3 linked regions of the Homo sapiens genome follow. The protein of the gene in region 1 interacts with the protein of each later gene in a pairwise test. Each region holds a gene or a part of one and is shown in the gene's direction. Other genes may lie near its edges.

What was found.
Region 2: the proteins of IL36RN (region 1) and SH2B2 interact in binary tests that used the Homo sapiens proteins (3 or more experiments, as listed by UniProt).
Region 3: the proteins of IL36RN (region 1) and UBL4B interact in binary tests that used the Homo sapiens proteins (3 or more experiments, as listed by UniProt).

The regions. Positions count from the first base shown.
Region 1 is NC_000002.12:113,061,372-113,070,511, forward strand, and holds the end of IL36RN (interleukin-36 receptor antagonist protein), read left to right. Parts: intron 1-752; coding exon 753-880; intron 881-1,081; coding exon 1,082-1,306; 3' UTR 1,307-3,373; downstream 3,374-9,140. UniProt on the Homo sapiens protein: Inhibits the activity of interleukin-36 (IL36A,IL36B and IL36G) by binding to receptor IL1RL2 and preventing its association with the coreceptor IL1RAP for signaling.
Region 2 is NC_000007.14:102,313,954-102,324,390, forward strand, and holds the end of SH2B2 (SH2B adapter protein 2), read left to right. Parts: intron 1-382; coding exon 383-474; intron 475-558; coding exon 559-729; intron 730-3,233; coding exon 3,234-3,442; intron 3,443-6,377; coding exon 6,378-6,549; intron 6,550-7,345; coding exon 7,346-7,677; 3' UTR 7,678-7,758; downstream 7,759-10,437. UniProt on the Homo sapiens protein: Adapter protein for several members of the tyrosine kinase receptor family. Involved in multiple signaling pathways. May be involved in coupling from immunoreceptor to Ras signaling. Acts as a negative regulator of cytokine signaling in collaboration with CBL.
Region 3 is NC_000001.11:110,101,753-110,114,447, forward strand, and holds UBL4B (ubiquitin-like protein 4B), read left to right. Parts: upstream 1-10,690; 5' UTR 10,691-10,782; coding exon 10,783-11,307; 3' UTR 11,308-12,195; downstream 12,196-12,695.

The DNA.
Region 1 (9,140 bases):
AGAACAGGTGGCATTGTTGGACCTCCTGCTTGCTCACTCTGCCCCATGCACTGCAACACGTCCCTCTCTAAAATAGTTTGCACCTGCCCACCTGGGGCACCCTTGCTGAGCACAGATGCCAGGTAGATCCTTCAGCTAGGCCATATGTGTATGTGTGTGCTTACTGGTGTATGTATGTGTGCATGCAGGCATATATGTGTGAGCATGTGTGCATGCATGTATCTGTGTGTAACCATGTATGTGTGAGTGCAGGTATGTAGGTATGAGCATGTGTGTGTATATGTATATGTGTGCATGCATGTATCTGTGTATGTATGTATCTGATGTATGTGGGTGGTGAGGGGATGTACAGAGAGGAATGAGACCCTCTTTTGCTCTCAGCAACATCACAGGGTGTAGAAAGTTGTCCAAACAATTCCAAAGGGGGGCTTATCAAGACAGGGTTCAGAAAAAGGCCTGAGACCCAAGGGACATTAAAGGAGGGGGTTGAATCTATTTTGGGGTGTAGAGGCTTGAAGATTTGACCCTGAACTAGAGGGTGGAGTGGAGGTGGTACAATGTGCTTCCATGCCTTGATGTCCACTCTGAGCCAGTGGACAGGAGAAGCCATGTCATGACAGCTGCTGAGAAGCCTCCCTTCTGCCCAGCCTGGGGGCAGGCCGTCTTACAGCAGTCCTGTGCCCTAGAGCCCAGGACAGGGGAAGAAGGAGGGAAAGGCATCCAGGGCCCTGCATCTGGCCTCTTTCCCACAGGTGAAGAGATCAGCGTGGTCCCCAATCGGTGGCTGGATGCCAGCCTGTCCCCCGTCATCCTGGGTGTCCAGGGTGGAAGCCAGTGCCTGTCATGTGGGGTGGGGCAGGAGCCGACTCTAACACTAGAGGTGAGACTTGGGGCATCCTCACTGGGGACTCAGCCACAGATGCTGAGCCTACTGAAGCCGGGCAGCCCACAGCCCTGGTGCTGTGGGACACCCTAGCAGGATTCTGTTGATGGCAGCTTTGCCTCCTCCCTAAGGATCCTGCCCAGCCCTCCCTCTGCCCCTGCTTCTGCCCTCACCTGACCTCCCCTCCTCTGCCGGCAGCCAGTGAACATCATGGAGCTCTATCTTGGTGCCAAGGAATCCAAGAGCTTCACCTTCTACCGGCGGGACATGGGGCTCACCTCCAGCTTCGAGTCGGCTGCCTACCCGGGCTGGTTCCTGTGCACGGTGCCTGAAGCCGATCAGCCTGTCAGACTCACCCAGCTTCCCGAGAATGGTGGCTGGAATGCCCCCATCACAGACTTCTACTTCCAGCAGTGTGACTAGGGCAACGTGCCCCCCAGAACTCCCTGGGCAGAGCCAGCTCGGGTGAGGGGTGAGTGGAGGAGACCCATGGCGGACAATCACTCTCTCTGCTCTCAGGACCCCCACGTCTGACTTAGTGGGCACCTGACCACTTTGTCTTCTGGTTCCCAGTTTGGATAAATTCTGAGATTTGGAGCTCAGTCCACGGTCCTCCCCCACTGGATGGTGCTACTGCTGTGGAATCTTGTAAAAACCATGTGGGGTAAACTGGGAATAACATGAAAAGATTTCTGTGGAGGTGGGGTGGGGGAGTGGTGGGAATCATTCCTGCTTAATGGTAACTGACCAGTGTTACCCTGAGCCCCGCAGGCCAACCCATCCCCAGTTGAGCCTTATAGGGTCAGTAGCTCTCCACATGAAGACCTGTCACTCACCACTATGCAGGAGAGGGAGGTGGTCATAGAGTCAGGGATCTATGGCCCTTGGCCCAGCCCCACCTCCTTCCCTTTAATCCTGCCACTGTCATATGCTACCTTTCCTATCTCTTCCCTCATCATCTTGTTGTGGGCATGAGGAGGTGCTGATGTCAGAAGAAATGGCTCGAGCTCAGAAGATAAAAGATAAGTAGGGTATGCTGATCCTCTTTTAAAAACCCAAGATACAATCAAAATCCCAGATGCTGGTCTCTATTCCCATGAAAAAGTGCTCATGACATATTGAGAAGACCTACTTACAAAGTGGCATATATTGCAATTTATTTTAATTAAAAGATACCTATTTATATATTTCTTTATAGAAAAAAGTCTGGAAGAGTTTACTTCAATTGTAGCAATGTCAGGGTGGTGGCAGTATAGGTGATTTTTCTTTTAATTCTGTTAATTTACCTGTATTTCCTAATTTTTCTACAATGAAGATGAATTCCTTGTATAAAAATAAGAAAAGAAATTAATCTTGAGGTAAGCAGAGTAGACATCATCTCTGATTGTCCTCAGCCTCCACTTCCCCAGAGTAAATTCAAATTGAATCGAGCTCTGCTGCTCTGGTTGGTTGTAGTAGTGATCAGGAAACAGATCTCAGCAAAGCCACTGAGGAGGAGGCTGTGCTGAGTTTGTGTGGCTGGAATCTCTGGGTAAGGAACTTAAAGAACAAAAATCATCTGGTAATTCTTTCCTAGAAGGATCACAGCCCCTGGGATTCCAAGGCATTGGATCCAGTCTCTAAGAAGGCTGCTGTACTGGTTGAATTGTGTCCCCCTCAAATTCACATCCTTCTTGGAATCTCAGTCTGTGAGTTTATTTGGAGATAAGGTCTCTGCAGATGTAGTTAGTTAAGACAAGGTCATGCTGGATGAAGGTAGACCTAAATTCAATATGACTGGTTTCCTTGTATGAAAAGGAGAGGACACAGAGACAGAGGAGATGCGGGGAAGACTATGTAAAGATGAAGGCAGAGATCGGAGTTTTGCAGCCACAAGCTAAGAAACACCAAGGATTGTGGCAACCATCAGAAGCTTGGAAGAGGCAAAGAAGAATTCTTCCCTAGAGGCTTTAGAGGGATAACGGCTCTGCTGAAACCTTAATCTCAGACTTCCAGCCTCCTGAACGAAGAAAGAATAAATTTCGGCTGTTTTAAGCCACCAAGGATAATTGGTTACAGCAGCTCTAGGAAACTAATACAGCTGCTAAAATGATCCCTGTCTCCTCGTGTTTACATTCTGTGTGTGTCCCCTCCCACAATGTACCAAAGTTGTCTTTGTGACCAATAGAATATGGCAGAAGTGATGGCATGCCACTTCCAAGATTAGGTTATAAAAGACACTGCAGCTTCTACTTGAGCCCTCTCTCTCTGCCACCCACCGCCCCCAATCTATCTTGGCTCACTCGCTCTGGGGGAAGCTAGCTGCCATGCTATGAGCAGGCCTATAAAGAGACTTACGTGGTAAAAAATGAAGTCTCCTGCCCACAGCCACATTAGTGAACCTAGAAGCAGAGACTCTGTGAGATAATCGATGTTTGTTGTTTTAAGTTGCTCAGTTTTGGTCTAACTTGTTATGCAGCAATAGATAAATAATATGCAGAGAAAGAGAAACAAATGCATTTGTTTTATTATTGCAATTTTCTCCAATATTTTTTATTTTCTTTCTCACAATGAACAACTATCCTTCATTTACCCAAATATTCTATTTAAAAGCTAATAATACAGCATTTGTTGAGTCATCTGGTTCTGCAAGATTGAGATCCTCTTGTCCTATGTGCCAGGAATGAACTCCAGTGTCCCCACCCAAACCCTGGGGAATGGGAGCAGAAGCCAGAGGAGGAGCCCATATCTGAGCCCCAGGTATTCCACCTGCACTTCACCTGTTGGACCAGCTTGGTGGTTGAGAGTCCACTGAGGCACTGGCAAGGAGGTGGCCAGGACAGACAAGGCTGCCTCTATGGACCTCACAGCTCCAGCCCAGATTCAGCTGAAGTCCTCAGGCAACAGGCAGCACAGCTCCTACCCCAGGCCTCTCAGGGCTGCCAAGAACATGAGCTCCGGATGCTAGGCTGTGTTTCAGACCCTGTTCACACTCTCTTTGTCCATGGGCCCAGACACAGTCTTGTGCTGCTCCCTCTGCTTTTGGGTCCTCCATCCATCCTCTCTGCCTAGATAAATCTCTCATCTTTCAATACCCTGCTAAGATGTCACCTCCTCCAAGAAGCTTTTACTGAGTTGAGACACCCCCAGCTATCTGATCTGGCAATGTTTGTATGCACCTCCCTGCACTGTAGTACCTTAACTTGGAGTCTGTGGCCCCTGGGATGACCTTAAGGTTAGGGACATATAAGTTTGTCTCTTAGCACCTTGCATAATGCTTGGCACATAATGGAAACCCAATGAGTATATAATGTAGAAACTATTTCTCCACCCTGGAATATTCTCTCCTTCTCCTCCACCCATCTAAACAGGCCCACCTCTAAGGGAGCAGCTTAAATTCCACCTCATTCTTGAAGGTTTCTCCAGCCTGAATTTGTTGCTTCCTCATTTGTAGGATGACAGAACTCAGAAGAGCTTTAGCCATGATGAGCCGACACAAGTCAGTAGTAAAAGAAGGAATATAAAATGCCTCCTTCAGGAATGTACAGGCTGGACATCATGACTCTACAAGTGAAAAAGAGTTAGTGGCTTTAGATTTCTGCAATTTTGGTATAAATCACTGGCCTGGACCTGTATTTACAGAGATGCAATACTCACATCATGTGGGGTTTGTACAAATTGCAGACATCGAGGAACAGAGAATGTTCCAAGGGCAGGCTGTAGGGAAGAGGCTACGATGTGGGAGGTATTATCCTGAAAAAAGCAATGCACAGGGAGCCCTCTTCAAGCACTTAAAGGCTTGCCAAGTAGAAGAATGTGCTTGTTCTGTGTAATTCCAGAACACACAAGCAGAACCAATGGGTGCAAATTATGTGGAGGCTGTTTTTCCTATATGACCCCCATATTTTAACCACAAGGACCACAAACATTGATAGGGTTTCTTCAAGAGGTTGTGTGGTCCCTGACCCTGGAGATGTTAAGGCAGAGCCTAATTAACCAATTTCTCAGGGATGCCATAGCACAGATTTCTCCAATTGGAGGGAAACTATGATTCCATGTCTATGAGATGGAGTTTCACTCTGTCGCCCAGGCTGGAGTACAGTGGTGCCATCTTGGCCCACTGCAACCTCTGCCTCCCAGGTTCCAGTGATTCCCCTGCCTCAGCCTCCTAAGTAGCTGGGCCTACAGGTGCATGCCACCATGCCTGGCTAATTTTTCTATTTTTAGTAGACACGAGGTTTCACCATGTTGGCCAGGCTGGTTTGAACTCCTGACCTCAAGGGATCTGCCTGCCTTAGCCTCCCAAAGTGTTGGGATACAGGCATGAGCCACCATGCCTGGCCTAAAGTCCTTTCAATTCTAAGATTTTTTTTTTGCCCAAGGAGCTTATCTGCCACTATTGTTTCCAACATGTCCTTGGCCCACAGCTTAGAGAGTCTGGTCTTCTTAATTATCTTTTCAAGTGTTTATGACTTAGTTCCTCAGCTAGACTGTGAAACTACTTAACAACAAGGACTGTGTATTGAATGTCTGTGTCACACAGCAGTGTAAATGCTGGGTAAACACTCATTGGTTGCCTGACATAGTAACTCATGCTTTAAGCCTTCCCATAGAAGGGTGAGAGATTGGGAGAGTGGAAGAAGAATGATCACTGGCCTTAGAAAGCAGAAATCTGGTCCCATTTCTGCCCATCTTTTCTCATTTCTCATCCTGCAGGCATCTGAGTCTTAGACCCACCTATCCCACTTCCTCAAGAAGCCCTTGGTGGAACTTTGCAAATGACCAAAGAGGGAGAATTATAATAAGGTTGTTAGTTTCCAGAGAACATTACACCTAAGCTTCTCCACGCTTGTAATGGAGGGATGGATGGATGGATGGATGGATGGATGGATGAATGGATGGATGAAAGGGTGGACAGAAGGGTGGATGGATGGGCACATGGGTGGATGGATGGTTGGATGGATGATGGATGGATGGAAGAATGGACAGATGGGTAGATAGATGGACAGATGGGTGGCCGGGTGGATGGATGGATGGATGGACTGAGTCAAGTAATGTCAATTAGAGACCTGAGTGTTCTTTCCTCTGTGCTCTACTCACACTATCATATTTCCTAGCAGTCCATGGCACATGATGTCTGCTCAGTCTCAGGGTGAATCTGAGGTCAATATCTTTGCAGTTGGGTTTCCCTAGATGTTCTGTCCCATCAAGCTGGTACCAACTAATTAAACCCACTGAAAAGCAGAGACTCCCTTCTCGTCTTTCCAAACAGAGTCACACTCACAGTGCTATCAGCCCCTTCTCTTATTCTGGCTGTCTGGCCACAGCCTGGATTCCGGCATCAGAATTTGTTCTGTCCTTGGGCTTGCCAGACATACTTTCTCTTGTATTCACCACCTCTTCAAGCCTAGGATGGAGCCCCACGGGGCACCAAAGATGTCTGACCCCAGCACTGTTTATCTGGCTGCAAACCCACTAATAACATAGTCAACGACAGTCAGTACAGAGCAGGGGCCCCATACCTTATTTCTGCCAAGGCTTTATGGATGACTCTCTCCCCCTTCAACAAATGCTCCTTAATGTTCCCACCATCTTATTATTCATGCTGTACCAAAGACATTGTGAAATGCCCAGGCTCTTCTTCCTTCATGTCCTGCAGCCAATTATAGAGATTGGTGCAGGCCTGACCCACCTGTACCAGACGGTATAAACACAGCGCAATGCCCTGGAGAAATCAGTTGGAGTCTCCAGGGATCAGGGTTCCAGGAACTCAGGATCTGCAGGTCAGTGATGGACAGGCAATATTCTCTCTCTCTTTTCTTTCTTTTCTACTCTCTCCTGTCAATATCTCTGGTATGCCCTCTATCCCTTCACTCCTCCTGGCAAGCTGTCTAGGTAACAAGGTAGTCCCCTCATATGACATGATGGGACATCAAAAACATTTAGGAGCACATAAAGAGATTTGAGGAGAAGGAATAGGTTAAGCCAAATCAAGATTTCTGAACTACTTAGAACAACTGACTTTAGAAAGTAATCTCAAAAGAAACCATCTGGGCCAATGGTATTCAAACCGTGTTTGGTGGAAGCTTAAGAGATTTTTTGTTTTCGTTTTTTTTTTTTTTGTGCTCCTTGGTAGCTCCTCAGTGTCTTCTTTGTAGGCAAGAGAAATACTAGCAGGGTTCCAAAGTCTCCATTGCTTCCTGTGTCAGCAAAGCAGCTGCCCTTTATCCTTTTTACAATCATTAGAATTCTGCATAAAATTTTATTGTGAAACTTAAAACAGTTTTGAAAGATACCTTACTCAATCTTTCCATCCAATGTTGATAAGTTGAAGGCCCAGGGATAAAAGGTGGCAAAATAAATTGGTAGCAGAGCTAGGTCTAGGACTCAGCCTTTCTATTCAAAGTCTGCTCTGTGTGTTTCTATGTCCTGGCCACAAGGACCAGGGTAGTTCAATTAGGGTGGTTGGAGAGAGCTTCAAGTGAGCTGTAAGCCATGCTTCATGACTTCAAGATCTTATAAACTTTTATAAGGGAAACAAATATCTTTATGTACAACAATAAATAATACAGTAAAATTTAATAGGAGTTCAGAGTAGAGTTACAATAGTAAGGGAAAGATTCATTAAACTCTGAGTCATGGAATTATAAATAGTTTGGCCTAGAAAGAACCTTCATAACCACATAATCTAATCCCATGAATGTATAGTGCTGAAACTGAGGGTTGGAGGTTAAAAGACATAACCCTGTATGTCTAAGCTGTAACTCTACACTGGTAATTAATTTGATAGAACTAGATACTGAACCCATCTATACTGATACTATCTCCAGTGATCTTAATATCAAAAGATCTGAATGGATGACAATGAGAAGGGATGACTTTTGAGGCAGGGAGAACAATGGGACACCTGTGAGTACGTCCACTGAGAAGATAAGAAAGGAATTATGTCGCCAGGAGGTGTGGTTTAGTGTCCATGGAGAAGTGAGATGCTATCACACAAGAAAATCAGTGCCAGACGGTGACAAAACAGTCAGTCACTGTAGATTCTAGAGCTGGGCAGGGATGTGGTGAAAAAAATCTTTAGAACGTGGGTCCACATTCCTCACATAGGTTGGAATGAATGAAAGGCAGAAAAACCGGGAATACAAGTACAGTAGTAATGGCAATTAAAAACACAAAGTTATATTTTAAAGAAATAACCTGTAGGGACTTGATAAGTTAGACACTGAGTCAGGAGAAGTAGGAGATATTGTCAATGAGTCTCAGGTTTTGAATATCACTGGTGAGAGGAATATTATGACAGTGAGAGAAATGAAATTGGGAGGAATGTGTGGGCTGGGAGGAGAAGATAATTAACTTAACCTTAAATATATTTGGTTGGATATCAGCAGGATGTCCAAAGTGGGCTGTCCTGTAGGCTGCAGGAGGTAAAGTGGGATGTGCAGTCTACATTTGGGAGCCATTAGCCCAAGATAATCATTGCAGCTGTAGAAGTCAATGAATTGCAGCTTAATATGATGTGAAATAGAAGTGCTTAGGACCTTGTTAGCCTTAGGGGTGGCCCCAGAAGGAGGTGAAATCTACAGTGGGAGAAAGAGGTGTGAAGGGAGTCATTCAATGTCAAGGGTTCCAAGGAGGCAATGACTAAATATCAAAGGAATCAAAAGAATCTCTGGATCTTGCTCCACAGAAGTTAATATTGGTCTTGGACAGAACATCCCACATAGATACTGTGCAGGAGAATGATGAAGGATAGGACAGGGTGCTGTGCAAAAGAACATGGGGAAAGCCCAAGTTTAGCTGATGGCAGTGTTTGAGCCAGGACAGGTGAATTGCGGAGGTCTGAGAGCCAGATGCCATGTCCAGGGAGAAATGAGAGGAAGAAAAGAGGGATATAGACTGAAGTTCAGTGAAAAGTCATTTGAGGAAAATAGGGAGGGGAAGCTTTGGGGGTGAGGCATGTGGCACACTGGGAGGGGCTTGGCACACAGCAGAGGTTCAGCACCAAGACCCAGGCTCTCTGATGGACCAGACGCTAGCTTCCTACCCTTACTCACTTCATCACAATCTATCAGAACCCAGGCGGAGGGAGCCGAATAGGGGAGCCTTTGGGAAAGACACTGTACATTTTGGCTGTGCCAGAATGGGAGGTTTCTAGGGCCCATGGGATCCAGCTGGACTGGACCAGCATTGAATTTCTTCCAGCTCTTTGAGCTGACACTGACCCAGAGTGGGAGTCATCAGCTTGCTATCCACCTTCACCCAGGGCCCTCCACTT
Region 2 (10,437 bases), on another chromosome or scaffold:
GGGAAAAGGGGTTCTGGTTTCTGTGACCCACCTTGGGAAAAAGGGACTTTTGTTTCTCTGGTGCCTCTGGGGAGAAGAGGACTGAGAGACAAGTAGGCAGGAGAAGGTCAGAGAAAAACTTTTTTGTTCGAGGCTGCTGCTGAGGACTTTGTTTTGCGGTATTGTTTTCTGAGCCCCAACAGTGGCCTGGTCAATCACACGGTGGCCACAGAGCCAGTGTAGGGTGGGACAGAGGGACATGGAGGCAGAGGGAGGTGACCAGAGCCAGGAGGCCTAGATGCTGGGCCATGGGACTGCCAGCCACTGCCTGGCCACATAAGTAGCCTGTGGTCCGAGTCCAAGTCCCACGGCAGGACATGGTTTCCATTTCTTGTCTCCACAGTGACAGTGAGGAAGACACCGAGCTCTCCTGTACCCGAGGAGGCTGTCTGGCCAGCCGCGTGGCCTCCTGCAGCTGTGAGCTCCTGACTGATGGTAGGTAGGGGGACAGGGTTGAAGGAGGGGCACACTCAGGGTGGACAGATAAAGATACGTGCATCTTACCTGCCACTTCCCCAGCAGTCGACCTGCCCCGCCCCCCAGAGACGACAGCCGTGGGTGCAGTGGTGACAGCCCCCCACAGCCGAGGTCGAGATGCCGTCAGAGAATCCCTGATCCACGTCCCGCTAGAGACCTTTCTGCAGACCCTGGAATCCCCGGGCGGCAGCGGCAGTGACAGCAATAACACAGGTGCCAGTGGGGACAGCCTGCTCTTCCCATCCCACCTCTCCTGGACCCCCACCCCCAGCCATGGCCACCCATGGGCTCCCTAAACCTTGCTAAGCCTCAGAAGCTGTGACATCTCATCCTCCTGGGTCCTTCACACGTCTCCGAAGTACTTCTGGCTTTTGTAGACTGGTCTAGGAACCTGGCCCCTCCCACTGGACCCAGTTTCAATAGAAAATGTTCACAGGGGCCGGGTGCGGTGGCTCACGCCTGTAATCCCAACACTTTGGGAAGCCAAGGCGGGCGGATCACCTGAGGTCAGGAGTTTGAGACCAGCCTGGCTAACATGGCAAAACCCCGTCACTACTAAAAATATAAAAATTAGCTGGGTGTGGTGGTGCACACATGTACTCACAGCTACTCGGGAGGCTGAGGCAGGAAAATCACTTGAACCCGGGAGGCGGAGGTTGCAGTGAGCCAAGATCACGCCACTGCACTCCAGCCTGGGCGACAGAGTGAGACTATGTCTCAAAAAAAAAAGAAAGAAAAGAAAATGCTCACAGGGGCTGGGTGCAGTGTCTCACACCTGTAATCCCAGCCAGTGTTTTTTGAGGCTGAGGATCACTTGAAGCCAGGAGTTTGAGACTAGCCTGGACAACATAGCAAGACGCTATCTGTACAAAATTTTTGAGACAAGAGTCTCACTTTGTTGCCCACGCTGGAGTGCAGTGGCGGATCACAACTCACTGCAACCTCCACCCCCAAGTCCAAGCAATTCTCACGTCTCAGCCTCCCGAGTAGCTGAGATTACTGGTGCCCGCCACCTCGCCTGGCTCATTTTTGTATTTTTGGTAGAGATGGGGTTTTGCCATGTTGGCCAGGCTGATCTTGAACTCCTGCCCTAAGTGCTGGAATTATAGGTGTGAGCCACCACGCCTGGCCACAAACATTTTTGTGCCTGTAGTCCCAGCTACTTGGGAGGCCGAGGTGGGAGGATCACTTGAGCCCAGGAGGTCAAGCCTACAGTGAACTGTGATCACACCATTGCACTCCAGCCTGAGCAACAGAGAGAGACCCTGTGAAAAGAAAAAAAAAAAAAAAAAAGAAAAGAAAAGAAGAAAGGAGGGAGGGAGGGAGGGAGGGAAGGAAGGAGCTCACAGAAAAGGGTCCATAGGGTTGGAATCAGGGATTGGGAACAGGCGACTGGATTTGTTCCTAAGTTTGCTGATGACTTACAGAGTAACTCCAGGATAGTCCTTCACAGCTCTGTGCCTCAGTTTACCTCATAGACTTCACCAGTGGGTTGGGTCAGCTCCCTGCCCAACTCTAAAATTATTCCAGCTGGGCACAGTGGCTCATACCTGTAATCTCAGCACTTCAAGCAGCCAAGGCAGGAGGATCGTTTGAGCCCAGGACTTCCAGACTAGTCTGGGCAACAAGACTCTGTCTCTACAAAAAATAAACAAAAATTAGCCAGGCATTGTGGCACAGGCTTATAGTCCTAGCTACCCAGGAGGCTGAGGTGGGAGGATTGCTTGAGCCCAGGAGGCCAAGGCTGCAGTGAGCTATGATTGTGCCACTAGACTTCAGCCTGGGTGACAGAGCAAGACCCTATCTCAAAAAATAAATAAATAAATAAAATTATTTGGCTGGGCGCAGTGGCTCACACCTGTAATCCCAGCACTTTGGGAGGCCAAGACGGGCGGATTGCCTGAGCTCAGGAGTTAAGACCGGCCTGAGCAACATGGTGAAACCCTGTCTCTACTAAAAATACAAAAATTAGCCTGGTATAGTGGTGCATGACTGTAATCCCAGATACTTGGGAGGCTGAGGCAGGAGAATCACTAGAACCTGCAAGACGGAGGTTGCAGTGAGTCGAGATCACGCCACTGCATTCCAGCCTGGGCAACAGAGCAAGACTCTGTCTCAAACAAAAAAATATTCAGGCCAGGTGCAGTGGCTCACACCTGTAATCCCAGCACTTTGGGAGGCCAAGGCAGGAGGATCACTTGAGCCTAGGAGTTTGAGACCAGCCTGGGGAACACAGCAAGACTCCATCTCTAAAAAATAAAAAATAAGGCTGGGCGCAATGGCTTACACCTATAATCGCAGCACTTTGGGAGGCCGAGGTGGGTGGATCATCTGAGGTCAGGAGTTTGAGACCAGCCTGACCAACACAGTGAAACCCCATCTCTACTAAAAATACAAAAATTAGTTGGGTGTGGTGGTGGGCGCCTGTAATCCCAGCTACTCGGGAGGCTGAGGCAGGAGAATCGCTTGAACCCGGAAGGCAGAGGTTACAGTCAGCCACCGGGATTGCAGCATTGCACTCCAGCCTGGGCGACAAGAGCGAAACTTCGTCTCAAAAAAAAAATAAAAACTAAAAACCAACCAACTTTTTAAACATTATTCCAACAGCATTTTGCATGTAAAAAAACCAACAAGACGTCACCTCTCTTCTCACATTTATTTATTTGTCCCCCTTTCTCCTTCCCCCCATGTTCCTCACACTGTCATCCCCACCTCAGGGGAACAGGGTGCAGAGACGGATCCCGAGGCTGAACCCGAGCTGGAGCTATCCGACTACCCATGGTTCCACGGGACACTGTCCCGGGTCAAGGCTGCTCAACTGGTTCTGGCAGGGGGGCCCCGGAACCACGGCCTCTTCGTGATCCGCCAAAGTGAGACTCGGCCTGGGGAGTACGTGCTGACCTTCAACTTCCAGGGCAAGGCCAAGGCAAGTGTGTGGGGGGCGCCATGGGGGTGCAGTGGCCAGCCCTGAGGGAGAGGGGTCATGGTGACCCCGGTCCTGAGGCTGTGCCCTGGAAGCAGCTGCAGGCGAACAGGTGTGGCATGACTTCCCACGGGCCCCACTCACCCCAGCCATGCTCCGTGAGCCACCTGCGTCCCTCCTACACATCACTGAGGGACTGCAGTCAGCCCTATTTCAGCCTCTGCATTCTCCAGAAGGGGAGGCCACCTACTGGCGGCTGAGCCCTCAGGAGGCTGGGCCCTTCTAATAACCCAAATTTGCAAATCCTTTCAGCTCCTGCGCGCGGGGGATCTCATAGCACTGGAGCTTCGGAGGGTCTCCACCCAGAGATCGCCCAGTGGGGGGTGGGAGCCAACCAAGGCCCTCAGAGCCCCACCTTCTGCCCCACCGACCTCAGACAGCCCCTCTTCCCTGCCCAGGTTAGGTCACCAACCCCTGAGGAACACACACGGGCAAACCCTAGAGACCCAGCAGGGGAGGAGGAGCTGGGCTGGGTGGGAGAGCTGTGCAGGGTCTAGGGGGTGGGGTTCAGCATTGGAGGGGACAGCCTGATCAGAGACCTGCAGGGGAGGGAGAATTGTGGAGGGGAAGACAGTCAGGAAGGCGATCCCAACAGCACCCAGCTGGATCAGAGGCATGATGGTACACCCAGGCGGTGTGCTTTCAAGGAAGAGGATTCCTTGCTATATTGACCTGAAATGCTTTGTTTTTGTTTTTGTTTTTTTTTGAGACAGTCTCGCTCTATCCTCCAGGCTGGATTGCAACATCGCAATCTCAGCTCATTGCAACCTCCGCCTCCCGGGTTCAAGCGATTCTTGTGCCTCAGCCTCCCAAGTAGCTGGGATTACAGACACGTACCACCACACCTGGCTAATTTTTGTATTTTTAGTAGAGACAGGGTTTCACCATGTTGGCCAGGCTGGTCTCAAACTCCTGACCTCAGGTGATCCACCCACCTCAGCCTCCCAAAGTGCTGGGATTACAGGCGTGAGCCCCCACGCCCGGCCTATTGACCTGAAATTCAAAGGAAAATTTGACAGCAAAGGCAAATGATTATGGGGGGGTGCAATGTGGCCAGAGGGGGCAGGAACCTCAGTGCCCACCCCCGCATCCCAGGTTTCCGATAAGGAAACACTCAGCCTGGGCTCCTGCCAGGACGGATTTCCTGGCGGCCCCTACTAGAGGAGGGAGAACCTTAGGACTCCTGCTCCAGGCCTGCAGCTGGGGGACAGTGTCTCTCTGCAGGGACCCCGGCTGCCCTAACCCCTAGTGGCTCAGTGCAGAACCTCTGGTGGCTTCTCTCCTCCTCCAGGTTGGCCCCACCATGCAGGAGGTAGCACCTCCACCAGGGACATTTCCTTGGCAAGCAGCCACCCTTACAGTTCCTCCGACAACCAGGTGCTTAAGGCCATCCCTGGTGACGTGCAATTTACTTCTCAGCCAGTGCTGCTCCAGGCAGCCTCCCAGAGGGCCTGGATCTGACTCATGCCCAAGCCAGAGGCTAGGATGGGGGAACAAAGGGTGGGTGGCAAGCTCCTCTCCTTCCTGGAACAAGACCCAGCCTTGAACCTGCCTCTCACCTCTCTACCCAGCTGCTCTTCTCCCAGAGTGGAGATGACTGCCCCAGGCCTGATAAGTAAATGGTGGGACAAAGCAGGAACCCCAGCCTCCAGCTTACATACCTCCTGGGAGGGAAGATCACTACCTTCCCAGAGGCAACTCTTTCCACCTTCACAGAATAAATGTCTGGAAGGTCTGGCAGAAGATTGGGATGCGTCCAACTTGCTTCTTCTCTCCCCAGGGACCCAGCTGTGCCCTGCGCAGGCTCTGCCCAGCTATGAGGCTGTGGTGGGACCCCTCTGTGCTGTTTCTTTCGGGCTGAGTCCCTGCATTGTCCTAGCAACTTATTCTGCTAAGTGGCAGAGCTCACTTGTGGGACCGCCACCCCGCTCCAGGGATTGTCTGTATTTTTTTGTTTGTTTTTTAAAGGGTTGGGGGGTATCTCACCATGTTGGCCAGGCTGGTCTTGAACTCCTGACCTCCCGTGATCCATTCCCCTCAGTCTCCCAAAGTGCTGGGATTACAGGCGTGAGCCACCACACCTAGCAGATTGTCTGTCTTTTATGCAGGTGGCCAGACCAGCTCCCCCTCCTGGGCTTGGGGCTATGCGTGTACCCTCAAACCACTCCTCTTAGCTCCCCTCTTGCCCCACACACCCCAGAGATAGCCACTTGTTTCTGCAGTGGGATACATGTTGAGCAAAATAGGGCTTAAGTCAGAGACCTGCAGCTCTCCACTAGACACCACAGGCCTATGGTTTCTTACCCTGAGGCACCTGCCTCACACAGGCCCTAGAGACCTAGAGAGAAGCCAGCCCTGTTCCAGCTGTTCCCACAGCGTGCGGTCACTCCTCCCCAGCCAGCCCTGGGGAGCTTTCCATGCCTCCGGGTTTTGGCTCTGCAGGGACAGAGGGCCAACCTCTAGCCTCCTGGGCTGGGGGAACCACCCAAACAGGAGTTTTCTTCCCTGCTCTGTGCTCTGTGACCATGGGCCAGTCACTCCCCCTCCCTGGGCCTTGGTTTTCCTATCTCTAACATGGGGGCAGTAATCCCTATCTTCTGGCATTAGGGAGGGGATTAGAGATTATAGGTGTGTAGGGCATGGGCCCATAGTGGAGGTGCTCCCAGCATGGGGACAATGCCTGATGCCTTCCATCTCAGCCTGGGTCCGTTGCCCCCATTCCCCATCTCCAGATGGGGCTCATGTGTGAGGGGCCCCCGGCCCTGACACAGCCCCATACAGCCCCTGTGAGCCTTGGTCCTTCCATCAACCCCCAAAGGCGCTTACCCAGGTGCCCAGCCCCGGACCTGCCCCTGACCACACCCACCTGTACCCACAGCACCTGCGCCTGTCCCTGAACGGCCACGGCCAGTGTCACGTACAGCATCTGTGGTTCCAGTCTGTGCTTGACATGCTCCGCCACTTCCACACACACCCCATCCCACTGGAGTCAGGGGGCTCGGCCGACATCACCCTTCGCAGCTATGTGCGGGCCCAGGACCCCCCACCAGGTAAGATGCCGCCACCTGGCTGGTGTGATTACTCAAGAAGACTTCCCGTTGATTACTCAAGAAGGTGGTCCCTGGGGTGGGATGAGCCCCAGGTCTCCTGTCCCATAGCCTCAGCCGTGTCCCTCCCACCCTAGCCTAGCCACAGCAATTTCAAGCAGTCACGTCATAAGGAATGGAGGCAGAAGTGGCAGCCTAGAGGCAGCCAGGTCCCTAATGATTCCTGGCAAGGGGAAGGGGGCGCCCAACAGCAGTGCAGGTGGGTGTATGGGGGTGGGGACAGGGGTGTGGATTGGGGCAAGTGGGATGAAAGGAGCTGGGCATATGGATTCTTAAGCCCTGCACTGGGGAGGCTCAGAGCAAAGCTGCTGGGACCGAGCACTAAGGGCATGGGTGCATGTGCATGCGTGTGCTTGTGTGTGTGCATGAGTGTATGTGTGCATGTGCCCGTGTGCGTACGCTTACGTGTGCGTGTGTGCGCATATGCATGAGCGTGTGCATGCGTGCATGGGCACGCGTGTGCTTGTGTGCCTGTGTGCGAGCGTGTGCATTATGTATGCGTGTGTGTGCACTCCTGTGCATGTGGCTATATGGGCGTGCACACGCGTGGTTAGGTACATGTATGTGTGTGTGCTTCTGTTTATGCATGTGGGCGGGTGTGCTTGCATATGTGTCCGAGGACATGGGCTGCAACTCGGAAACCTGAGCGTGGGCCCTGGCCCCTTGAGGGATCCCGGCCTCCCTGCAGGATGTGGCCAGCCCAGGTCCCCACTCACGCCCTGCCGTCGCCTTGTTGCAGAGCCGGGCCCCACGCCCCCTGCCGCGCCCGCGTCCCCGGCCTGCTGGAGCGACTCGCCCGGCCAGCACTACTTCTCCAGCCTCGCCGCGGCCGCCTGCCCGCCTGCCTCGCCCTCCGACGCCGCCGGCGCCTCCTCGTCTTCCGCCTCGTCGTCCTCTGCCGCGTCGGGGCCCGCCCCCCCGCGCCCCGTCGAGGGCCAGCTCAGCGCGCGGAGCCGCAGCAACAGCGCCGAGCGCCTGCTGGAGGCCGTGGCCGCCACCGCCGCCGAGGAGCCCCCGGAGGCCGCGCCCGGCCGCGCGCGCGCCGTGGAGAACCAGTACTCCTTCTACTAGCCCGCGGCGCCGCCCGGGTGGGACACGCCAAGCTCTTCAGTGAAGACACGATGTTATTAAAAGCCTGTTTTAGGGACTGCACCCGGCTCTCCTGTCGTCCTTTCTCCCACGGGGAAGGCGGGGACTGCGGGGCAGCCACTCTCAGAGACACCCGTCCATCAGGGACCCCCGTCCAGCCCAGTGTGGCCTGACACCTGCCAGGCCCCCTTGCAGCTCTGTCTCTGGTGGGACAGCTGAGGGACTCCCCATGGGGCGTCGGGCAGCACCTGAAAGAGGGCCCAACAGCAAGGGTTAGGGCTTAGGATCGGGAGGGGGCTTTACTGGAGCTGTGAGGGAGAGAGATGGGAGGTGGTAACAATGAGGGGTGCTGAAAAGAGAGGAGGGGGCATTCAGGACACAGTGAGGGATGGGGAGCACGCCCAAGTCATACGGAGAGCTTGGATGCCAGGAGGAGGAGTCGAGGCCCGGACTGGGAGGGTAAAGGCGTTTTTAGACAGATCTATGAAGCCTGGCGGTGTGGACAGGGCGGCAGGGCAGGAAGAAGCCTGGCGGTGTGGACAGGGCGGCAGGGCAGGAAGAAGCCTGGCGGTGTGGACAGGGCGGCAGGGCAGGAAGAAGCCTGGCGGTGTGGACAGGGCGGCAGGGCAGGATGTCTCCATATTAGCCCTTAGGGGATTGGGCAATGGAAGAGGCTGGATTTCCCAGCTCGGTGGTAGACTTAAACTTGGAAGAAGCTTAAAGAGCCCTCCCACCCACCGCGCTCCACCTCATTCACACCCAGCCCCCACCCCGTCTCATTCCCACCCCACACCTACCCACAAGTGGAATTCCAGCTGTGACTCCCATGACCCCAGGCTCTGGAGACACTGCTTGCTGGCAGTCCCAGGACCCCAGTCCCCAGGCAGTGTTCAAGAAAGATCCTGTTCCTACTAAGCCAAACCTCTGCCTTCCCCACAACACCCCAGACCTGGGGTCACAGACCCACAGTCCCCTTGCCCAAGACTGGCCTTGCAGGGCTTGGGTCAATGATGCATCCATCTATTTTTCTTTCTTTCCCCTTCCTTCCTTCCTTCCTTCCTTCCTTCCTTCCTTCCTTCCTCTCTTCTCTTTCTCTTCTCTTTCTCTCTTTCTTTCCTTTTCTTTCTTTTTCTTTTTTGAGACAGGTGCAGTGGCACAATCTTGGCTCACTTGCAGTCTCAACTTCCCGGGCTCCAACTATCCTCCCACCTCAGCCTCCCAAGTATCTGAGACTACAGGCGTGCACCACCACGCCTAGCTAATTTTTTTTGGTAGAGACAGGGTTTCACCATGTTGGCTAGGCAGGTCTCGAACTCCCGAGTAATCCTGGGTGGGAGGCGATCCACCCACCTCAGCCTCCCAAAGGGCTGTGATTATAGGCATGAGCCACTGCACCTGGCCAATGATGCAGATTTCAGATCCCTAGACATCTAAAGCTCTCAGGACTGTAACTAAGACACAGCCTCTTCCCCATAAAAGGGGCATGAACACCCTTGGGTGGCTCCCAGGGCTTTCAGCCACCCAGTCCCCATGCACAACATCATCAGGAAGTGACAGAGTAGGGCCCCCTGCTACCACCATGATGAGGGAAGAATACAAATTCAGCGATCAGGAGAGCACCCTGCTACCTCTGCTTCTAGCACCTTCATTCGGTTGTGGCTGGAGTCCTTCTGCCCCCGTGCCCTGGTGGTTTGGGGTCTATGCTAGGCCAAGTGCAAGTCCCCATTCCACTCCAACAAGAACAGAGCGGGCTCTGGACTGAGGCTTGGGCTGGGCAGACGAACAGGGGCAGACTTAAGACTTAGACCCACCAGGTGGGGGCAGTGGTTCACGCTTGTAATCCCAGCACTTTGGGGGGCCAAGGCGGGCAAATCATCTAAGGTCAGGAGTTCGAGACCAGCCTGGCCAACATGGTGAAACCCCTCCTCTACCAAAAATACAAAAAAAAAAAAAAAACTAGCCAGGCGTGGTGGTGCGTGCCTATAGTCCCAGCTACTTGGGAGGCTGAGGTGGGAGGATCGCTTGAACCCGGGAGGTGGAGGTTGCAGTGAGCCAAGATCGCGCCACTGCACTCCAGCCTGGGTAACAGAGGGAGACTCCATTTCAAAAAAAAAAAAAAAGACTTGGACACAGAGTGTGCAAGCCTTCAGGCCCTCCTGTCCTTTCCTCCTGATGTCGTCAGCCACAGCAGAGGCCACTCTCCATGCCGAATGCTCAAAACAGAATCAGCACAGAAGCAGGCAAAAGCACTGATTGACTGTCACCTTTGCTCAATGGGGGGCTCATGCACATATGCACACACATAGAGTATAAGACTGTGGGAGAGGGTCTGTGCCAATCCTAAGGGGGCAGGCGCTGTTCCTGGGGTGTTCCCAGGTTAAAGTGAATTCGGGGGGGGACAGCAGAAGTTGATACGGTGACTGCCCCCCCCCGGGCTCTCCCAAGGGATGCAGCAGGAAGGCCCAGGAGGTCAGTGAAAAGGGGGCTCTCTCTTCAGTATGGTCACCAGCGTGAGATCCTCAAGCCTGTCACTCAAGAGGGTGGTTCCAGATAGCCCAGACTCAGTGGCTCTGGCGAAATCACAGCCATTGCACAGACGGCAGCAACATTTTCAAGGGGGTTTCATTTGTTCCTCAACAAGCATTTCAGATGCCTGCTCTGCGCCAGGCCAGGCCCATGGGGTAGCTGAGCCAAGCTTTGGGACCACAAGTGCCCTGGCTGACCTGTGACACTGGGTGTCGC
Region 3 (12,695 bases), on another chromosome or scaffold:
TGAGGCTCAAGGAAGTTGGGTAACTGCGGAAAGTTCCAGCCAGGTGGGGTCCAGCCCAGAGCTGTTTCCCTGTGCTTTTATTTCATCTGAGCTGTAGGTTCCCTGATCTCCTCCTCCTGGGATGCTGGAACATGGAGAAAATCCCTGCTCCCAGCTGATGTCAGAGGCGCCCCAGTCTTTGTCGCTCAGGCCTGCGTGTCTCTGTCTGTCCTGCAGCCCATGCCCTTGGTGGCCCACTCTGGCTGCTCTTCCGGACCTTCTTCATCCTCATAGGGATCTCCCCTCCCTCCTGGGGAGCAGCAACCAGAGCCACACTTGGCCTCCTAAGTCTGGGGTCCCAGACTGGATACAGGGCTCTGTATCCAGGCAGGAGGACTGGCCTCACCGTGACCTCCGTCTCCAGCCTGCCGGCCAGGAGTGCCCATCATGGCCTCAGGCCTTTGGCATTCTTCCTTGATGCTGCAGTTCCCCTCTGCTCCTCTGTGACCCTATTGAGTTTCCCCAGGTCCGGCCAACCAAACACTGCCATATGGGGGAGAGTTACATTTCCTGTGTGTGTGTCAAAATATCTGAGCGGATGTGAAATACATCAGACATGTATAAAAATAAACTTTTACAGGGTGACTGACTACTCCCCTCCAAGGAGAACCAGCGATTCACTCTTCATCTGGGGCCCAGAAACTTAGCTGGGGCCTTGGGGACCACTCCCCATGCCTGGCTCCTCACGGCCATCCTGCTTCACTTCCTTGGGCTCTGGGCCAGCTCCTCTCCCGGAAAGCATTCTCCCCAGGGCTCTGCTGGTGTGTAAACCCCTCCCCAATAGGCATGAAGTTAGCAAGTCACCTCTCTGGGCCCCAGTTTCTTGATGGGTGTGGTAGGGGGTTGCTTTTTCAGCTCGCCGTTGTCTCTGACAATCCACGACTCACAGCCTGTGACTCCCCAGTCTAGGCTACGGCAGGACCATCCAGTCACCTATTCTGGTTTGCAGGAAGCAACATCCCCAGCCTTATATCAGAAATTTCTCCCTAAATGTAATTCTTAGTCATTCCAGACTCAGATGCCACCCCTTGCAGAGAAGTAGGGGAGGGGTCAGGTGTAAGTGGGAGCTTGAGGGGGTGCACGGTGGTTTTGGATAGCTCTGGAGATTCCTGCCTTGACCACTCTGAGACCCTGAAGCAGCTTGGACAGAAGACCCTATCTGTTAACCTATGTGATTCCTACCAGATCCCATTCTAGGGCCGTTGGTTCCTGTCTGGTAAAGAATCCGGTCTGGCCGTGACAACTGCCTTTGCCCAGCCAAGGGGCTGGAGGGTCCCAGTTCTGAAGACTCAATGCCTGGCACATAAGCTTAGTCAGGACCCAGAGGCAGAGTGCTAATTTCTGTTTCCCTGCAGCCCCATCCTGGTTGGAGGGCTCTTCTTCCTTCCCAACTGGGCTACCAGCAGGCAGGGAGGGAGGCCAGGGCCACCCCACATGACTCTCCCACCTTGTTTCCTGGCCTCTGGGACATCACTGCAGATGCACCACTCCCAACAGAGTCTGGCGTTGATGGGCAGCTGCCATCCTGCCAGGAACCTGGTGCCAAGAGCTTGGGCTGTGGGACTGGCCCTCAGCCTCAATTCAGCCAGACCCACCCATCACCTGACCCATGCCCACTGCCTCTCAGGCCTCCTTTGAGTACCTTGTGTTCAGGCCAATTGCAAATGCCAGAGATAGCTTCAGGCCAGCAGTTATTGAATCTGGGGTCCACGCTTCTGCTGGGTGGGAGACAAAGGGAGGCAGTATTTTGGAGAGGCCAAAGGAGAGGCAGGGCTGACAGCTGGCTCTCTTGTCTTTCTCTAGTTCTCTCCAGGGCAAAGACCCCACGTAACATTCTTGCCAGCCCCTACCACCCCCAATTCTGGTGCCAGATGCTCTATACTTCCCACCTTACCATGAGTCCTGTCCCTTCCAAGACACTTAACTCTTAATCAGGTCCCTGTTAATGAAAGTAATGGGGTGACTTGTCTGTGGGTCCTAGGAGCATTTATTAGGTAATAAACTTAATGTACAAAAGGTAGTCAGTCCAGTGTGATATTCTTGCAGTGGAAGAGGCACTTCAGGGCAGAAGCTCATATTGGTGACCCCTGGGATGGCCATCAGCTAGGATATGAGGCTGCTGGTCCAACAGGTAGTCACTTGGGTTTTGATACCAGGAATGACTCCACTGAAGTAGTTCTGATGGTCTGCTATGGAGCTTGAGGCAGCCCCTGATCGGACCCGTTTTTCCATACAGTCCATGCTGCTCATGGGACCATCCAATCAGCTGTTGGCTGGATTTAAATATTCTCCCTCTTGCTTTTGGCTCCAGCTTGTTCTGATGAGTGGCTGCATGTGGCTAGTGCTACCAGCTAGAGGAGCAGGAAGTCAAACAAAATAATAGGCCAACCCTAACTGTAACCCTAACCCAACATCCCACCTGCCAACTGGACTTCCTTGGGGTTAATCAAGCCTAAGTCAAATCCAAGTTTACTAGCCCCTTGTTCTGTTCAGCTGTAGTTTAGTCTCTCTTCCCCTAACAGAGATCTGTCTTACAGGTAGCTCAGTTCCCCCAAGCCCAGCTTTACTCTGTTCCCAGCTTTCTCACTCTTTTTCCCTTGTTCCTTCATTTTGGTCTTGGCTTCCTCTGGGGCAGATGTCATGCAGCTTGTTCCATGTCATCTTCTCTGGCAGGAGCCTGCTTTCCTCAACTGACAGAAGGGGTCTTGTTAGCAGGAATCTCACCCAAGGACTCGCCTTAGCACCCTTAGGCCAAGAGTCAGGCTGAAAGGCTAGCACAAGCTGCCCTGGTGAAAGACCAGCCTTTGTATCTCGCCAGGAGCAACAAGGACTCTCTCTGGTCCTGCACGATCCATGTGGCAGCATCTTTAGATTGGCCACTGGCTTCTCCACCCACACCTGGCTGTAGACTTGCAAGACCAGCAAGAGCAGGAGGTGTTCAGGGCAGGGCTTTGTGGGCCCCTTCTTGGTCCTGGCTTTTAATGCATCGTGTTTGATCTTTGCCACGTGGTGGAGGGTTCCTGTCGCTCTGGTTGATGACACAGATCTTCAAGGAAGCAGTCACCCCTGTAGGAAGGGGAACATTTATCAAAGCCATTCCCAGGGGGGGTGCCTGCCAAGTCTAGGCCCTCAGCTGGACCTTTGTAGAATGTCCAGAATATAGCTACCATTCTGCCTGGCCCAGGAGGCCCTCTGCTTCTCCATCTAATCTGGCCTAGATGGGAAGAAATCTTTTTTTTTTCCTTATTCTTGCAACCAAGATAAAATTGTAGATTTTTCAGGAAGCACTTTAAGAGGAAACAAAAGGGAAAAAAGTACTCAAGAACCACATGGAGGCCAGTGGCTCATGCCTATAATCCCAGCACTTTTATCATCCTGAGGCAGGATGATAAAATTGTAGCGATCCTCCTGCCTCAGCCTCCTCAGTAGCTGGGACTATAGACACACACTACCATGCTCTGCTAATTTTGGTATTTTTATACAGATGGGGTTTCGCCTTGTTGCCCAGGCTGGTCTTAAACTCCTGGGTTCAAGCCATCTGCCTCTTGGCCTCCCAAAGTGCTGGGATTAGAGGTGTGAGCCACCACGCCCAGCCTGTTTGGTATGTTTAAATGCATGGCAGTCCCACAGCTACAGGTTGAAGCAGACTACTTTTTGCCAGCTGAAATCACACAGCCCAGAGTGCAGACGGGCACAGGAGATGCCCCTGTGTTGATCATGATTAAAGCACCCTTAACAGAGATGATGGGCCACCAGCCACACCATGGGCAGTGTCTCCTCCAGGGCACACCAGAGAAGGCCATGAGGGAGGGAGAAACTCACTCTTGGCACCATAACACTGGCTGGGGTCCTGGTGTTCCGAGAGCCCCAGTGGAGCTCAGAGACAGTGTGGGAAAGAAAGCCCCCTGCTGATCCCAGCTTAGGTTAGCAGGGCATGTGTGTACGTGCGTTTGCGTGTGCGTGTGCATGTGTGTGTAAGACAGAGTGAGTGATAGCTGTGGGCTGCTCCTTGGGGACTCCTGTGCTTGTGCCCTGCAGGGATGCAGAAGTCTTGGCTCCAGGAAAGAGCTCTTCTGTGAAGGTGACGGCCCTGCCTGTTTCCTGACTGCCTCGCCTCTCACTCCTTTGCTGCACTCCAGCTCACCGAGTCCCACACTTCCACATGGACTTGCGTGTGCTGGGCCCTCAGTCAGGGCATCCTTCTTCATCAGGGCAACTCCTGTTCCTCCTTCACACCCACCCAAGCTCCCTCCCAGGTGAAGCCTGTGATCAGGGCCCACCTCCTGCTGGAGTTAGAACTTCTTTGCCTCCATAGTAAAGTTTACTATCCTGTTCCTGCTTCAGGGCCAGGCGATGTCTGTGCTCAGACCACGACCCCGAAGAGGAGGGCAGGAGTATGGCTGGTGATCTGCAGGAGGAGGGGGCTGGTCTCCACGTGAGACCTTGTGCCCAGGCCCCAGGCTGGCTTGGTTGGTGTCAGCTGCTGGACTGGCTGGTGAGGTCACCAGTGACATCTAGTGGTCACAGCAGGCTACAGCCCGGTGAGGTTTTCCAGCAGTTGTGAGTTCCATGTGGTCTCTGGAGCCAGGTTTCTGATCTGCTCCCAGCCAGTGTCTGACTTCTCCAGGGCTCTGGGACACCAGCACAGGGCAGGACTTAGGTTGTCTGGTGTGAGGACTGAGGCCTTTCAGATATTGGACTACCCACTGTCAGCCAGAGAGGGCTGGGACTGTAAGTGATGTCCCCTGGGCTCCTGTGGCCCCATGAGATCTGCTGCCTTCCTCCTGCTCCAGCTCCTTGGCCCTGCAGGCCCCAGGCTCAGGTTCACCTGGGCCTCGGCTCCCTGAGACCCGGGAAGGGAGGAGGCTTTAGGGCCCTCATGGGAGAAGCCCCAAACCCATTTTGGTGCAGCTGCTGAGACAGCCAATGCCAGCCAGTGGATGACAGGCAGGGAGTGGGCCATACCTACTGAGCACCTACTATGTGCCAGGCACTATGGAGGGCAGCCTGGGTCAGGGGCCACCTAAAGAGCTGCCGGTCCTGTCCTATGCTAGGCCTGACAGGGCACAAAGCAGCCCTCTTCCTCAAAGGGGTAAGAGGTCCCTGATGACAGCAACAGGAGGTGGCACAGGCTGAGTGGGGTCTCCAGCAGCATAGTGGTGGGCCTGGGGCAGCCCTTGCCACAGGGCTGTGTCTGGTGACCTGCCAGTCTTCACCTCACCATTGCAGGTGCAGGCACATCATGGGCGCTCGAGACACACTGTTGAGTGATGCGGCTATATGGGCTGGAGGCAGCAGGTTATGCTGGGGACCACAGCTTTGTGCTCTCAGCTTCCCAGATTCCACTTTCTCTACCAAAGTTTCCCCGTGAACCATTTGCAGACTGTAAGGAGAGCGGGGAGGACTGTGTTCTTAGAAGGGAGGCCTGTAGCGCTACTGACTGCACTTGGTTTGCATGAACTGTCCCTTCATGCTCCTGCTTCTCCCACCCCGCGCCCACCCCAGTTCTTTCCTTTTCTACCTTCTTCCCTGGTGCTGCTCCCCTGCCTGCACTTTTTATCCCATCCCCTTTCCGTTGTGTCCCTTCCACTGTTCACCCCTTTCCAAGCACTTCCTACACTCGGCTTTCTTATTCTCCATTCCTTCTCCGTTTCTCTGTCTTGCTTTTGCTCTCCTTCTCTGTCTCCCCAGGTTCTGCTCCATCCCAGGCACCTTCCTTGGAAGGCCAGCCTGACATCATTAAAGTGCAATAACTTCATCATTTTCCAGGGAGTGAGGTGGGCAGAGGCTATAGTTTATCTTCTATATGAGCCTTTCCTGTGGCCCCTGGGAGTGGTTGTGAACTTCCCACCTCCTGGGGCCCCTCTCAGCAGTCAGCAAAGGCCTCTGCTTGCCGACCTGTGCAAGCAGTGGGGCCCACCCCGGCCTGTGGGGATTCACACTTTGGGCACAGTTCTAGGCACAGTGGGATCTTCATTCACTGTCGAGGGGTGACAGTAAGAGCTGCCGTTTACATTTATCAATTAAATCTATACGTCTGGGTGTCTTCATGGGTTGGATGCTGTGTGAGGTCCTGGGGGTATGGCCTACCTATTTTGGCCCTCACAGCAACCCTGCAAGGGAGGCTGGGCAGTGACCACACTCCCGTTAGACAGAGGAGGAAAATGGGGCTCAAGGAACAGGATTGCTCAAGGCAGGCCCCAGGCCGGCAGCTGGACACTTGGCTTTTATCCTGAGGAGTTCACACCCTCAGCATTCAATGTCCAGTCCGTCTGCTCAGGAGATTGCAAAGGGCTTCTGAGGAACCCAGATGTTCACAGACCTGTTCCGAAGCACCCTCCCACGCCCATCCATCTTCCCTGCCGGACATTGTGCTTGTTTCCCAGTGACACAAATTGCATTTGCAGTTGTTTTCAAGATAGCCTAATACTATCCAGCACTGTCTGCACACATTGATTCCTTTCCCCAAGTCACCAGACCCACTCATTCCCAATAATCTTCCCCCCTAATTATGGCAATCATTGTCTGATTGCATGCTCCGATTACACAATTACATTTTCTAATGCTAATTGCATAATTATCACAAGCAATTACATGGGAAAACATAAAATTTCCAGGCTCCAAATGTGATTTGAGGGTCCAGCAAAGTGCCCCCACTGTCCCCCTTAGGAAAGGCAATGGGGTCTCCTGGGCACAGACACAGCAGCTGGGTAGTGACCATCTCTCTCGGCTTCTCTGGGCACCACTAATTCTGAAGCTTCTATCTTCATGGCCCAACTAGGACTCTCTAGAACAGGTAGCCTGGTTTAGAAAGTGTGGCCCAGCAGATATGACTCTCTAAGCCCCAGTCACAAGGGCCCCTGCCTGCACGCAGCCGCTGGTCTGGGAGAAACAAAGCCTGAGCTGTGGTGCTCATGTGCTTCTAGAAGCCCAGGCCCAATATGTCTTCTTCAGTGGCTTCCAGTGTCCTGGGCAGTGTCTGGCTGGGTGGATGGGTCTGAGGAAGAGATGCTGGAGGCAGGCAGTTGATTTTCATCTTTCTGCTTTGCTCAGGACATCTCCCATGGTGTGGCCCCAATCCTGTCCATCTGATGGTTTGTCCACCACTGAGTCCTCCCCTCTAGAGGCTGGGAGTGCCCACATGGCCAAGGAGAAACCTCATCCATCCCCCTGCTCCCTCTGCAGAGAGGCCCTGCAGTAAGAGAGTCCACAGGTCTCCCCCACACTGTATGTACAGGTACATTTACAAATTCTATCTTATTTCAAATGCACCAGGGGAGCTGGCTATTTAAAGAAATGCTATAGAAGATCCTTTGGTAAAGACTGGCCTCACTTTCTGATTGATTTTTTATGTAATTTTGTATTTTCATCTCTCTAGGGCAGGAGGTGGGGGTGAGAGAGAGGCTGCAGGCGGGTTTATGTCTTTCCACAGCCTGCTGCACTGGACCTGCCCTGCATGCCCCTGGATGGCTCAATGTGTCTCAATTTTATCTTCTTCATTTGACAGGCGGGTATTCAAGGCATTCTGTGTACCAGGCTTGTGTTGGAAGCGTGGGACACAAAGGCAGAGAAGACCTAGTCCCAGTCTCTGAGAGCTAATGAGGTGTGCTAGATGCATTCACGTAAGTAAGTTCAAGGGGAGCAATGGTTGCATGGAGGGAGGTGGGATTATCTCTTCCCAGGGCTGGGGAGAGCAAAGAAGCCTTCATGGAGGAGGTGATTTTCAACCTGAATTTTTTTCTTTCTTTTTCTTTCTTTTTTTTTTCTTTTCTTTTTTCTTTCTTTCTTTTTTTTTTTTTTTTTTTTTTTTTAGAGGCAAGATCTTCTTATGTTGTCCAGGCTGGTCTTGGACTCCTCAGCTCAAGCTATCTTTCTGCCTTGGTTTCCAAAGTAGCTGGGACTATAGGCATGCATTAACCTGAGTTTTGAAGGATGAGTTGGAAGAGTTCAAATAGGACAAGCAAGTAGAGGAAACGCAGACTGGTGTGGCTACGGTGGAGGATGCCAAGTGGGGAGGCACGAGGCTGGGTGACAAGCAGAGCCCGGCCAAGGAGGTCAGTTTTGATTCCAAAAGCAGAGGAAACTAAACTGGATGGTGTTACTCAGAGGAGTACACAACCTTGCTTTTATTTTGGGAAGATCCCCTTGGCTGTGGTATGAATGGACCCAAGGCGGTGGGACTGGTGGAGGAGATGAACTATGGGCTGGAGGGAGTTGACAGCCTGAACCGGTGGGCAGTGGGGATGCAGAGGAGGAGGAGTGGGTTTCGGAGACATTTTCAGGGAAGAAGGGAAATAACAAGGGGGCTCATTTAGTGGGGGAAAGGAGAGGAGGAAGGAAGTGAGGAAGGGACGGAAGGTCAGGGAATTCCTGACTTGTGAGCTCTAGTTTCCCTATGGACTAGAATATGAGTCACCCGGCAAGAGTGAACATGGGGCTGGGGTGAGGGGTGAGGGCTTGCTGAGTCTGTGGCATCTATGGATATTTCTTTTCTTCTTCTTCTTTTTTTTTTTTTCTGAGACAGAGTCTCGTTCTGTCACCCAGGCTGGAGTGCAGTGGAGTGATCTCGGCTCACTGCAACATCTGCCTCCCGGTTTCAAGCGATTCTCCTTCCTCAGCCTCCCGAGTAGCTGGGATATTAGGTGCGCGCCACCACGCCCGGCTAATTTTTGTATTTTTAGTAGAGACGGGGTTTTACCATGTTGGTCAGGCTGATCTTGAACTCCTGACCTCACGATCTGCCCGCCTCAGCCTCCCAAAGTGCTAGGATTACAGGCATGAGCCACCGCGCCCGGCCCCATGGGTATCTTCACCAGCTGCTCTTGGCTGCCAGCTTCCAAAGACAGGGACAGAGCTTGCAGCCACCTTTGGGCGGAGTTCAGGGCTGGGTGCTGTGGAAGGGCAGTTCAGGAAAGTCCAAGGATGTTGACAACAGCATCATGCCACTGTAGCTTCCAGGCAGGTGGAAAAGGAAAGGAGGTTAGGTGGGAGGGAGGGAGAAGGTGAGTGAGAAGAAGGGCACAGTCGAGCACAGAGCTGGTGAGAGTTGAGGGGATCCCTGACAAAATCAGCCCACTGGCTGCGAGACGTTATTCAGGTCTTCTCCAAAGTTGCTCAGTTCTAAAATGAGACAATACTTTCCTCCCAGGCTAAATTGTGACAACATATATAAAGGGCTTGACCCAGAAGGCCTTCAGCAATGTGTTGCACTGAAAACTGCCAAATGCTGCAGAAGTTGCAGACACAGAGGAGGCCCAATCAGTGTCCTTTTTCATATTCACCTTTGAGCCGGGGGTGCCTGCTCAGGGCCTGGGCCACAAAAGGCACTGAGCAGAGATTTGTTTAGGAGGCAACATGAGGTAACAGTGAAGACAAGAGCAATTCTGCCTGCTTGCTGTAGGATCAGCCAAGCCTCCACTTTCTCCTCTGGCAGATGGAGATCATGGCAGTGCCTGCCTCATAGGTTGAGAGGATTCAATTAGGCAGGCCTGTGATGCAGATGCTGTGGGCTGTCCTGCCCCATCCCCTCAGCACTCACATTCCTGAGGGCCCGATGGCTTCCTACTTTTCTGTGGTCACAGGAGCATGCTGCTTAACACCTGTGGACCAGAAGTGCCAAGGAGGTAGCACTTCTATTAGCCAAAGACAGGAGTCAGAGCATAAAGATGCAGGTTCGGCCAGGTGCGGTGGCTCACGCCTGTAACCTCAGCACTTTGGGAGGCCAAAGCAGGCAGATTGCTTGTGTCTGGGAGTTTGAGATCAGCCTGGGCAGCATGGAGAAACCCATCTCTACTAAAAATACAAAAATTAGCCAGGCATGGTGGCGTGCAGCTGTAGCCCCAGTTACTTGGGAGGCTGACACAGGAGAATTACTTGAACCCAGGAAACGGAGGTTGCAGTGAGCCGAGATCATGCCACTGCACTCCAGCCTGGGCAACAGAGTGAGACCCTGTCTCAAAAAACAAAAAAAAAAACAAAAAAACCACACCTGGTGCAACTCAGGTGTGTTCCATGCAACCTCCCAGAACTCCCCAGCAGGATAACATACTAGTTGCCCACAATGGCAACCTGCTCATGAATGCACGTTTTGATTTCCCTCCCGTCCTCATCTCACATCCTCACTCCCCTCCTGGTGCCTCCTGGGATCACCTCCTAATTGAGTACTTGTTCTCAAATCCCTGTCTCAGTGTCTGCTGCTGGAAAGCCCAATCCAAAAGAGCGTGTAAAGTGCTTGACAGAAAGAGGACGCTTGATAAATGCTAGCCAGCTCACTAGTGTGAAAGTGTCATGAAGGCAGAAGTCATCCATCTGAATATGACTGTCTCCCCAGGTCCAGGTGCTGGCACAGAGGTGGCACCTAATACACATGTGTTGAAGAAATCAATAGACATGCTCCTCCCACCACCCTGTCCTTTCCCTCCCTCCCTTTCCCTAGTCTCACTCTCATTTCCCCCAGTCCCACATTTTCTTTCCTAGTGCTCTTTTTCTCCTCTCGTGGAGGAAGGATGCTCTGGGCCCAAATACCCCTTTGCTGTCCCAAAAGTTCCACTCTGGAAATGAGCCCCCCCGCAGCATTGTGACATCACCGTGCACTAGCCAATGGCTGCCTGCCTAAGCTGGGTCCCTGGTCTCCTGGGACTACTAGCCCTTTGTTGATAGGGAGAAGCCAACATCTCCCGCAGGACCCCCTAATCTTCAGGGCAGCTCCCAGAGCATGGATCCCTCCTGATTCCACTCAGCCCGATGTTCCTCACAGTCAAGCTGCTCCTGGGCCAGAGATGCAGTCTGAAGGTGTCAGGGCAAGAGAGTGTAGCCACGCTGAAGAGACTGGTGTCCAGGCGGCTGAAGGTGCCTGAGGAGCAGCAGCACCTGCTTTTCCGTGGCCAGCTCCTGGAGGATGACAAGCACCTCTCTGACTACTGCATTGGGCCCAATGCCTCTATCAATGTCATCATGCAGCCCTTGGAGAAGATGGCGCTAAAGGAGGCCCACCAGCCGCAGACCCAGCCCCTGTGGCACCAGCTGGGACTGGTCCTAGCTAAACACTTTGAACCACAGGATGCCAAGGCCGTGCTGCAGCTGCTAAGGCAGGAGCACGAGGAGCGCCTGCAGAAGATAAGCCTGGAGCACCTGGAGCAGCTGGCCCAGTACCTCCTGGCAGAGGAGCCTCACGTGGAGCCAGCTGGAGAGAGGGAGCTTGAGGCGAAGGCACGGCCTCAGAGCTCCTGTGACATGGAGGAGAAGGAGGAGGCAGCAGCTGATCAGTAAACGGGCCATCCTACCCATTTGCATGCTAAAATTCTCCCGGCCTCATCCTTACGTGTTCCCTGGTGACTTTTCCTACTACTTCCTGCTGATGTGGATGCGTCCACACCCCTTTTTGAACCTTCCAAGCAGCTGGAGGGTTTTTGGATCCCTGTCCCCTCTTGGGCCTGAGGTCCTCCCTCTGAAATGCAGAGTGAACCAACCCTCATCACCATGCTTCCCCTAGAAGGGTTCTGATCACCGGAGGGCAGCCCCAAAGGCCACAGTCCCCTCCTGTGCTGGCAGCTTTGCCCACACATACCCAGCAGCTCCCCAGGCTGAAAGCAGCCCTGGCCCAGGGTCTCCATGGTTCTAGGCAGACCCTCTTTCTCCTTCGGGACAGAAAGACAATGTGAGTTCATTTTCCTCCATCCTCAGACCGTGACATCTCCCCTAGGCTCCCCAGCAGCCAAGAGGAGAGGAATGTCAGGTAGCTGCCCCTTGCCTTCTGGGTGAGGCTGCCCCTGCTGTTCTCCTGCTTGTGCTTCCAGCTTAAGGGACAGGCACAGCAGAGGTGAGAGTGGGAGGAGGGCACGTACCGGGTGCCAGCCCTGGAGCCCTCAGGGAGACAGACACAGACCAAGAATAGCAGGAAACTGAGCCTCAGGCAGAAAAAAAGTTCAGCAAAGTCATACACTCCCTGTGGCCAGCGTGAACAGAGCCATGCCCCACCCTCCCAGACTGATCAGTCAGTAGGTATCACAGCTCACATTACCTGCCCAGCGCTGCCCAAGGCTCCCTGGAAGGAAAAATGGTATCTGTCAATGAGGATCCTTGCCCTCACAGAGCACGCAGCCTAGATGCAGAGAGCTGCTATACATGTGAAAAGTAAAGTGGTGACATGAAACTAGAGTCTAGTGTGTGTGACTGAATGCACGGGGCCTCACGGGGCCCTGGGTTCAGCATAGAGGGGCCAGTCCCCTGCAGACTACGAGGAAAGCCAGGCCCTTTACTCTGTTCTTTGAGTGAGAGAGTGGCCCTTGCAGAGGCTGAGGAGTCCCCACACTCTGTGTGTGAGTGGGAGGGAGTGGGGAGCTGTGGTCCCCCATTCACTGCTGAAGCCCCTGAAATGCTGTTATTGCAAAAGTTTCAGTCCTGAGTGATGGGGATGGAGGGAAGGGGTGGAGGAGAATGTCTTGAACAAGCAGGGCCCCCTTCCCTAGGAAGCATCCTGTCCTTGGCCTGCAGGGCCCCTCATCCTCTCTTCCAGTCCGAGTCCAGCTGTGTGGCCATGGGTAACCTGCTTTTCCTGTCTGATGCTCAGGTTTCCCACCTGTTGCATGGGCATCCTTATAACAGCATCTACTTACCCCATGAGTGTTGGTGACGGTTAGAGGCAAAGACTGTCCAAC